Linked DNA regions of Homo sapiens: region 2 is linked to region 1. Evidence: fine-mapped expression QTL. A gene starts in region 1. The other region holds a variant in brackets. All regions are shown on one strand. Distances are from middle to middle.

Evidence for each region.
Region 2: its variant is fine-mapped to the expression of LRRN3 in whole blood (TOPMed, PIP above 0.99). The same link has a PIP of 0.9 or more in blood mononuclear cells.

Annotation. Positions count from the first base shown.
Region 1 is chr7:111,087,922-111,093,320 of GRCh38, reverse strand. LRRN3 (leucine rich repeat neuronal 3) reads right to left here and starts at 2,194. Exons shown (of 3, transcript NM_001099658.2): 1 at 1,817-2,194. All of the region lies in intron 3 of IMMP2L (inner mitochondrial membrane peptidase subunit 2), which reads left to right.
Region 2 is chr7:111,011,382-111,016,780 of GRCh38, reverse strand. The region is part of intron 3 of IMMP2L (inner mitochondrial membrane peptidase subunit 2); the gene reads left to right. Among named protein-coding and RNA genes, the nearest start is that of LRRN3, 77 kb to the left of the region's middle. The variant G/A (reference allele first, on the strand shown) is at 3,285.

The DNA.
Region 1 (5,399 bases):
TTTTCCTTTTTGTAATAAATCATTTTGGTTTTTTTTATAGATTGCATGTGGCATTTGAGGCAGAGCGAGCAAAGCTGCCAATATTGCAAGCTGATGCTTCAGCACCTTTCATTTTTCTCTGAGCAGGAACCCTCTTCTTAAACTTGTTCATCTTACAGAGAGAAAATCGAAGCCACTGGCATATTGTCAGAGCTGCTTTATTGTCATCATTTACAAAGGTCACTGGAATTAATTGACTTCTTATATTACATGTTGTAAACTGACTCATTTTTTTGACACATTTATGGGAAAGTGGCAGGATCTAAGTGGCTGGTTATTGTCTTTTTGCTTTGGCTTATATTACAAACTAGGAAACCAATAATAGCTCTGAAATCACAGTTGTGGAAAAAAATAACCCACAGTTTCAAAGAAGCTGACTCTGTTAACTGTGTGGTTAGTTGAACTAAAAGAAGGCAGGAGAGAGCTCCAGAAGATGAAATACAAATGCTAGGTTTCTTTTACTGTCTTTCCAGGACCCAGTAAAGAGGGCAGTGAATGTTTCCATGAATATCCTCAATTGGTGTTGTCTGTTTGAAAGCATATTCTAAGTAGCTGGCTTCCCTTTACAAGATTGGAAGTAAAAATTAACCCACACTGAATTCCATGAATCATCAATACATGGATGCTCATAGAGTTTACTGAGAGTAATTCTGTCTCAAAGGCATTGCTTCTGAAACTAAAGATGAGAAATATATCAGTAATATTTATGGTACCAGAGCACACTATTTTCTAGGTAGATATTTTGAACCTTTACTTCTATTTTTGTTTTCACATTATCCCCTTTTCACTAAATTAGGACGGTTCTACTCATATTCATAGCCTGCTTTCACTGAAATTAGAGGCAGAGAAACAAGGACATATTGTTAAAAATGAATAAATTAGAGCCGAATTAAGCCATCCAGCTCAACAACAGCAAAGGGAATATAGCAGTTGGTTAGAACAAACAATTTTCTTAAATAGGAAATGTACTTTAAAGCCATCCTGCTGTGATCCTGTTAATTACCAAAGATTAGAACTCTTCTGGTTCATGGGATCCTTTCACCTAGTGTGTGGCAGTTCCAGCTGCATTAGCAATCAGACATTTGCACTGTCCCTTCAGACCAGCGAGGGGATGTTATTAAAGGGAAGTCATTTACCCCAGTCCGTAAGATGTAGCCTGGCAGAAATTCAATAACTGTTTGTGATATGCTCATTCTGCTACTCTGCTTAGTGGTTTAGCTCTTAACATACAACAGCATTTGCCTTAATTTGCATCCACTGGATGAGACAAAATAAAAATGCCCCATTTGGTGGGTTGATTTCAAAACAGAGAATAATGTGTGATCTGCTTTTCACTACAAATAATGTGAAGAAAAAGGAAAATTGCACCCCATCACCCGTGACTCTCCTCTCCTCTCTGTCTCCTCTCTGTCTTCTCTCTTCCCCATCTCCTTCTCTCTCCCTCTCCTCCTCTCTTCTCCCCCACTGTTCCCTTCTCTTCTGTCTCCCTCCTTTTTCTCCTCCCCCCAACACTGCTTTTTCTCTCCCACTCACATCCTCTAATGGGCATTCAAGCTAGTAAAATGCATGTTGGAGAATCTCACAAACACAGCTAGGCACACACAGAGCCAGCTGGGTTTTGCATGTGAATTTCTTCTCAAAAGTGCAATAAAAGAAAAATGCTCTTAGAATTCAGACAAGAAGAAGACATCAAAGGAGGATTTAGGTGTAAAAACATGATCATCGAAGAGACAAGAAATAGAACGTATTTTAAAATATATGTGTATTTTAAACTTACCTTGAAAAGCAGTTTCAGTGCTAGCCCACCTCCGATGTCCTTGCGTGCTGGATTCCTCAGTTCCTTGGTTGAGATAATCACATGGTTGTGTTCTTGCCCGGTATAAATAGGTGCATTTGTGTGTCTGTGTAACAAAGTGTACAAAATATATACTATAGATATGCACACATGCACGCAATCTTATCTCTCTATTTTAAAATATAAAGGAAGGCAGGAGGCTGCAGCCGGGATTCCTTCTTTTTCCTGGAACTCTTTTTCTCAGTCGGCAGGCTGAGGCTCTCAATCCAGTGAAGAGAGATCCTGTGAGCTGGCTTTATTTTTCCTTGTTTCCATGGTGGTTAGTGGTGCATCGTTCACCCGATCAGTTGTCACACTGACATGGTGCTGCCTGCTCAGCGGTCATTAATAACTGAACACCCTCCACTCCCCAGAGAGGAGCCAATCGCTTCAGACAGCCAAGATGTAGCACTCGCAGCTGCTCCAGTCTGGTTGGCTGAAACAAACTGTCTGTTCTATGACACTGCTGCTTAGGATACAAATAAATGAAACAGGCTTGCATGTTTTCCTAGGTATCATTTTCCTTCTTTTTTTTCCTTTCTGAGGGAATGTTGGGAATTTTTGACAAGTTTTCTCAATTTTAGGTTATCAGTCATTCAGAGAAATATGTTTTCAGTCTGCAAATAGAGAGGACACACTACTGATAAGGATTTCCTAAATATTAAAAACACCTGGTAGAGACTCAAACCTCCAACTCCGTCTCTGAAGTTCAGCAATGACTGCATTATTTAAGAAGAGAAGCTTGCAACTGTTTTGAGTGGCATTTGGTTCTCTATAGATCCTACTTAATTTAGCATATGTGCTTGGTGTTCAATAACACTTTTTTTTTTTTTTTTTTAGCAATGACATTTCTTGTCTGGATTGACCAGATTTTTAAAATAAAGCATATATTTGCCTCTCTGTAATTCACAACATTGGCATTTGAGGGGGTACTTTTTAAAAATATGTATTTCTAATTATACTCACTGACTTCTCTTTATATGATGTAATAAATCTAGGAGCTACATATGAATGGGTACATGTGTAGGTGTGTTTGTGTATCTGTGAGTGTGTGTGTGTATTTAGGATGTATTTTTTACCACTCTGGGGAAATATTTCGATTGTAATAAGTTAAATTATTTAAAAGACTATCTTTATTCTTAGGCCTATTAACTCTGAAAGGATATTTCCCAGGAAAATATACTATATAAGCCATACATGTAAAACATTTTTATTAATTACCAGAAATTTGGAAAACACAGAAACACATAGCAGTGCATATTTCTGAAAGAACATACATGAAAAATCAAAAAGCAGTTTTAAAAATGCATGTTTTACAACCTTAATTAGTATACTAGAGAAACATCTTGTTGAGGAGAATGGAACATGAGGATTAATATATCAACAGGTCAAAAGCAGGCTAGTCATGACTCCAACCCCAGTTTTGAGAGACTACCCTCTAGTGGAGTAAAGAGAAATGGCACTTATTAGATTTACTTAGGAAAAAAAAAACAAAACCTTCACATCTAATTGCTCCTTAAGTGCTTATTGACATGACATAGAACAATAGTTTGCAGTTATTATAATAATAATAATACCAGGAAAAATTTTAAACAGTAGGCTTGTCTTTAAATACTGAATATTTTCACTCTGTAGTTTTCTAGAAACAGTTCCCAAATGTTTTTTTCTATAAGAATTTATTCAAATGAATCAAAATAAGTTCAAGATAAAAGTAGCATCTCATTTAACCTAATACTTATTTCAGAATATTATTGTAAGGTTTTATTATTTACTGGATACTCTAGTATTTACTCAGAAAGCACTGAGTCAGTTCTGTATGTTAGGGATCATGGTTGAGTGTTGGGATGTTGTGTTAGAGTATATTTACATATAATTTAATGTACTTTTAATAATAGTAATAATCATCCTTCTTACCCCTTAATTTTAATCTAGCAAATCTTAGTTTCTTTAATATTCCAAATTATTTCAGTATCTGCAGGATTTATTTCCACATATGGAAGAATAATCTTAAAATTGTGATAATTATTTGTAAAAAGAGAATTTTTATTTATGCCATGGTATCTTAAGTGATTAATTTTCATTGATTGGTATTGACTGTATAATTGACAAGTCCAGTAATCAAACCAATTATAATGCACTCCCATAATGAAGGTAAGTTGTGATAGTCAGATACATGATTAAACTCCTCTCTTGGTTTTTAAATGAAACTGCAGTCATACCTAATATCTTAAATTTCAGTCTGTTTCAGAAATCAAGAAAAAATCTTTTCAGTTTTGATTCAGTTAGAATTGTTAAAGGTAGCCATTTATATGTTATCTTACATTATTTCATAGGAAGTTGTTTTAACTAAATGATCACTCTTTTGAAAGTGGGAGATCAGAGTGCTCTTCCTGCAATTGTCCTTTTAATGTAGGTACATGATAAATTTAAAATATTTTATACTCATTTTTATAAATTTAATATCATGGAGCACTAGAAATGAGATTTTAATGTGAAAGAGAAAATGACTCTGGCTTTGGATGAAAAGGATGGCGATTCTGTTCTTTGACTGGAATTTCTATCTTGTTCCAAGAGCATCAGCAGCTTTATGGAATCAGTGTGTGTTTTGGGTGTTTTTTCACTTATCAGGGCGTTCAGTCCTTAACTGTAAATATGAAATGTGGCTCTCTCCAAAGATACATGAAAAAATTATTTTGGTATCACATCTATATAATGAAGTACCATATGAAGACGTTACATTGTAATACAGTAAGGATTTTAGGGTTTTTGAATTAATACAATTGTGAGTGATCATCAAATGAGAACCATGGAATCTTAGCACACAGTTGGCACATTAAAGCCAGGATAGAGCCCCTCAGGTATTCCAGGTTTTTTCCACCATATTACCCTATCATCTACTGGATGATTGACAGGTCTCTGCTAATTCTTCTTTTCCTTCTTCTCCTTCTTTTCTTCCTTCTTCTTACTCTCCCTCCTTCTCTCCCTTCATTTTTTTTTAAGTTTCTTCCTTTAGAAGGCACTAAAGCTTCAGAGAAATTTCACATTGTAAACCACAGTATTACATGGTTGTACATGTTACCTACATTGTAGGAAATGTCTACAGGGTTTCCTAGATGAATACTGAGTTTTAATGGAAATGTATTGAAATGGTTTTAAAATGTAAATGAATAATTACAACCCTTAAATTATACTGAAAGAGTTTTGCCTTCATCATCAAATAAGAAAATATTGGGTACAGTAGATATTCACTGACTTAGTGGTTGGGATTTTTAACTTGTTTATTGCTATTTCATCAAATCCTGGGCTTTATTCGCCTGTGTGCTTTTCTTAGAAAAGTAGCCTGGACAGTCGGTAGAATGTGGGTTTTAGAGCCACAATGTCTGGGTTTGAATCCTTACCTTGCCACTTCCTAGAGACTCTGAGCATCATGTTAAGTATCATCTCTGTTAAGTATCATCGTGCATCTTGGTTTAAAAGTATTATCTCTGCATGTCATTTTTCTCCTAGAATTGTTATGAACATTAAA
Region 2 (5,399 bases), 77 kb after region 1:
TATATATGCATATATAAACTATATTTATATAATATATATAATATATATATTTTATATATAAATATATATAAAATTATATATAATATAGAAATATAATTTATATATTATATATGTTTAATATATGTATATATGCACATAATATATATGCATTATATATATGTATATATTATATATAATATATAGTACATATATACATATATGTATATGTATGTATTATATATTATATATACTATATATTATAATATATAATATATACATATATAATATAAAATACATAAAATATATATTATAAAATATATAGTATAAACTACATAAATATATATATTTATTATATATAATTATCTGAAATATAATGTAAAATATATATTATATAAAATATAAATATATAAAAATATATATCATATAAAAATATAAATATATTAATTTATATATAAATTATTATATATATAATTACTGGACTTTTTTTCAAGTTTGACAGGGAAGGAAGACAATATTCAAGTAACATCCATGTAGCTAATCTTCATTCTATATTCTTATCTGAGTTTAACCTAGATGAAACACAAGGCTTTTAGTGCAAAGTGAAGACGTAGTTTTAATTTTAGATGTTGAGATAAGATGTCAAAACATCTTACTCAAGCTGGCTGATACATATAGTTGTTTTTTGCAATGCACACTAAATCTCAGGCAAGAGAATTTCATATTTTTATCCTTGAAATTTTCTGGCATTATGCCATTGTTCTTAGCATAACATTATTAGTGCTACATTTTAGTTTGTTGTCTGAGGATTCCTAGGGAGTTGAATGCATTGGATCTAAGAAAATAGTTGTTGAGATATCTGAAGGAACTACTTTATAATATTTCTTAAGAGTGTTTGAAGTGGGGAATTGCTTAAGAGTCTTTGGTGTTTGAGAGAGGCTATATAAAAGGCAACACAAGTGTGTCAATCACTAGCATCGAAAAGTTTTTTTTTTAAATCATTCAATTCAGTGGTCTTAATATATTCACAGAGTTCTGGGACTGTCCGCAATATTTAATACAAGAATATTTTCATTACCCCCTAAAGAAACCCTCTACCTATTAGCATTCACTCTCCATTTACCGCCAGTTTCCTCAGCTCTAAGCAACTGCCAATCTACTTTCTGTCTCTACTGATTTGCCTGTCTTGGACATTTCATGTAGATAGACTCAAACAATAAGTGGCCCTTTTTTCTATTGTGGTGAAAAACACAGCAAAATTTACCCTCTTAACCATTTGCAAGTATACTTTTTAGTAGTGTTAAGTATATTCACGTTGTTTTAAAACAGGTCTGCAGAACTTTTTCATTTTGCAAATCTAAAACTCTATGCCCATTTTAAAAAAGCTCCCTCTTTCCTCCTGTCTCTTGCCACTGGTAACCACCATTCTACTTGCTGTATCTATGATATTAACTAGTTTAGATACCTCATTTAAATGGAATCATACAGTATTTGTCTTCTTGTGACTGACTTATTTCACTCAGCATAACGTTTTCAAAGTTCATCTATGTTTTATTACATGATAGGCTATCCTTCCTTTTTAAAGCTGAATAAGATTTCATTGTACGTACATATCACATTTGTTTGTCCATTCTTCTGGTAATGGACATTTGGGTTGCTTCTGTCTCTTGGCTATTGTGACTATTGCTGCTGTGAACATGGGTGTGAAAATATCTCTTTAAGACTTTGGTTTTCATTCCTTTGTGTATATACCCAGAGATGGCATTGCTGAATCATATGGTAATTTTAATCTTAATTTTTTGAGGAACCTCCTTACTGTATTCCATAGAGGATGCACCATTTTACAGTGCCACCAACAGGGCACCAGGGCTCCAATTCTCCACATCTTTGACAACACTTATTATTTTTGTGTTTTCTTTTGTTTGATAGGTGTGATCCTAATGGGTGGGTGTGGGATGATATCTCACTGTGGTTTTGATTTGCATTTTCACAAGCTTGTTGGCCATTTGTATGTCATATTTGCAGAAATATCTATTCAAGTCCTTTGCCAATTTTTAGATGGCTTATTTGGTTTTTTGTTGTTGTTGCATATAAGAGGTTTTTGAATATTCTTTATATTAGCCCCTCATCAAATATATGATTTTTTTTCCCATTCCATAGATTACCTTTCACTCTGTTGACTGTGTCCTTTGATGCACAAAAGTTTTAAAGTTTGATGTAGTTCCATTTGTCTGTTTTTGCTTTTGTTGTCTGTGCTTTTCATTTCATATCCAAGAAATCATTCCAAAAGCCTTTTAAATAGTCAACTTATGATAAAAACAGAGTTCAGTGATTCAAAGATTAATCCAGGAGTCATTTATATTTGCATTTAAAATGTAATTTGTACATACATAAGTGTGTGTGTATGTGTGTGTGTATATATATATACACACACAATTTTTTTTTCTTTTGACACAGAGTCTCACTCTCCTGCCAAAGCTGGAGTGCAATGATGCAATCTCGGCTCACTGCAACCTCTGCCTCCCAGGTTCAAGCAATTTTCGTGCCTCAGCCTTCTGAGTAGCTGTGATTACAGGCATGCGCCACAATGCCTGGCTAATTTTTGTATTTTTGGGGTTTTGCCATGTTGTCCAGACTGGTCTCAAACTCCCGGCCTCAAGTGATCTGCCTCCCTCGGCCTCCCAAAGTGTTGGGATTATAGGCGTGAGGCACCACACCTGGCCTGTTTGTACTTATATTTGATTATGGATATGCCTACTTTTCTGAAAAGTAATTGCCAGCAAAATAATGAAGTTTTGCTGTGAATATATGACTTGAGAAGCTGGAAATATGTCCAGTTTTCCTGACTTGACCCCTAGGTCAAGACCTCCTTGATATGAGGGAACTTTTTACATGTTTGTCTTTCAAAGAATTTTCTTGGTAAGATGAAAGCTATATGAGGTGGTAAACCAGACTTGTTTTTTAAAAAAGAAAAAAAAAATAAGCAGTCTACTTAATGTTTAATCAAGATATACCACAGATAAACTAAACGAATAAAAGATATACATAATTAAGATTTTACTCTATAATATTGCCTAAGTTACAGGGAATCATTCTACTTCACTGTAAAATGAATGATTTTTTCCACTTGTAGGCAAGGGGCATATATGGGAGTTTGTATGTGGGAGGAGTTAGTTTGGAGTGATGCCTGTGAACATAACCTGCTTGCACTCAAATCCTCCTCTTCTCCTCCTTCTGTGTTCCTTTTTATGTTGAATGGCTTCCTGTTCACCCACTTACTAAAACAGAAACTTGCACACCCTCCTTCC[G/A]TTTTCATCTCCCTCACACCTCCCATCCAGGCAGTCACCCAATTCTTTCAGTCTTACCTCGAAAAGTAAGCCTGTTTCTTTCTGTCCTTATTGCTACTTTCCTTGTGCAAGACTTCATGTTCTGCCTTAAAGTGTTGTAGAAGCCTTTTCATTGGCCAGCCTGCCTGCCTTGACTTGCCTCCTTCAGTCAGAAACATATTTATAAAATATGATTTGCTCATGTCTACCTCTTACATAAAACTCTTAAGTGGTTCTCAATTGCTCTTAGTACTAATACTGAAGTTATTATCGTGGCTTATAAGGTCTTTTGCAGTCTCACACATGTTTACCACAACAGCCTCATCTGTCCTTAGGTACTTTTCCCTTATATAATCTTTATCTAGGGGTCTTCTAAGGCCCTCTCTCCTTGTTTGTTTCTCTCAGTGGATTGTGGGGTTCATGAATTTAGGAATCATACCAATCTAGCTCACTGCTATAGTTCTTGTACCTAGTGCAATGTATAATACGTCAGGTATGCAGTACAATTGTGCTGAATGAATGAAAGCTGCAGTGCACATAAGCTATATGGAAGCCCTTCCTCTTCCTAATTGCAAATTTTCTTACAATAATTTAGGATGTTCGTTATTTTCTAACTCCCAACAAGCTTGAACAAGTTCTGAAAAAATAAGATACAGTGAACCCTCTCAGCTTTCATTTCCTCATCGGCAAGTTAGGGGCTAAAGCCTTTACTAATAAATCTGTAAGCTAAAGTGATTGGACCCATTCATCTCTGAAATTTCTGTTCTGTGATCCTATAAACATGTGTCCACCCTAACTTACCTAAAACTCCAGAATAGCTACCACATATGTAATGTATAAATAGTCGCTCTAAATCTATATTTATTGGCCTTCTAAAACATAATTTCTGTTAAGGTTGGTTTAAATTTTTTTAAAAGTCAGGATTGTGTCTTTATCAACTATGTTTCATTTGCCCCTATGTTAATATCATATATAAATATTACTATATGTGAATTATTTCATTGTAAATTGAAAAAGTATAATGTAGAGGAACTGAATGCATTCATGTTTATTTGCCTAGGTGAAATTTATATTTGTTTTTATTTTATTGGCTGCATTATTATGAAATACTGTTCGCACTATAGTGAGTCATTTCTGAAAGTAATTGCAACATTGTATGAGGTACTCAAACTCCTTAAAGGAAGAATAACAATATAAATTCAAAATGATAATGGAAATAATTGCATTGTTACTCTGAAAACTCGTGCTTGGACATCTCATCAGAAATGGTGCATATGAAAATTAGCCATATCAAATTTTACCTGAAATAGCCATAGAAATTTATTTTATCCCTGTACCTTTGATCTGCATTACATTTCAGCTCCTCAACTAATAGAATTCTCTCTCCCTGTACCTTTTTTCCCACTCGAACTCCATAAATATCTGTTACTCAATATAGACAGGGGGATGAAAATGGACATACTTACCTTCTCTTGCCTTCCACACATGAGTAGAAATGGTTCTGGAAAAGTGGGCTCCAGTAATATGCTGCCCAGCTGTGAAGTCCCAGAGAGAAATACAGGATGGCAGGAAATGGCAATGTCATAAGAATTTTGTGCTCGCTCTCCTACCAGAGCCATAGCAATTTCTAGCTTAGGGCATACCCTTCCCCACCCAAGGCACATTTTCTTCCTGGTGAGAATTGATTCATAGCCTATCAAAATCACACAAGTAAATGAGTAATTTATTTGTTTTCATTTGTTTATTCACTCATATAGAGAAAACACTCACTGACACTCTTGTCAGTTGTTGCCGTCTTCAGTGCAGCATGGTTTCAGAATTCGTTCCTTGCCCAGTAGCAAAGCTGCAAACTCTCACATCATATTGGCTAAGGGTATGATTACTCAGCTATAAGAAATGATCCTGGTCCAGAAAAGAAGGCCACAGGCTCTCCATTTATTGCCTCCCTCCCCCTTAGACTTCATTTCAGAGTAATGACATAGTAAGGGGACTCTTTTCTTCAGAAAATTGTTTTTCAAATGCACTGCATTCCTGAAGGAAACTATCTGTTGTGCATGCATTTTTGGGTACTTTTTTCTTTAATAATAACACAGCTAC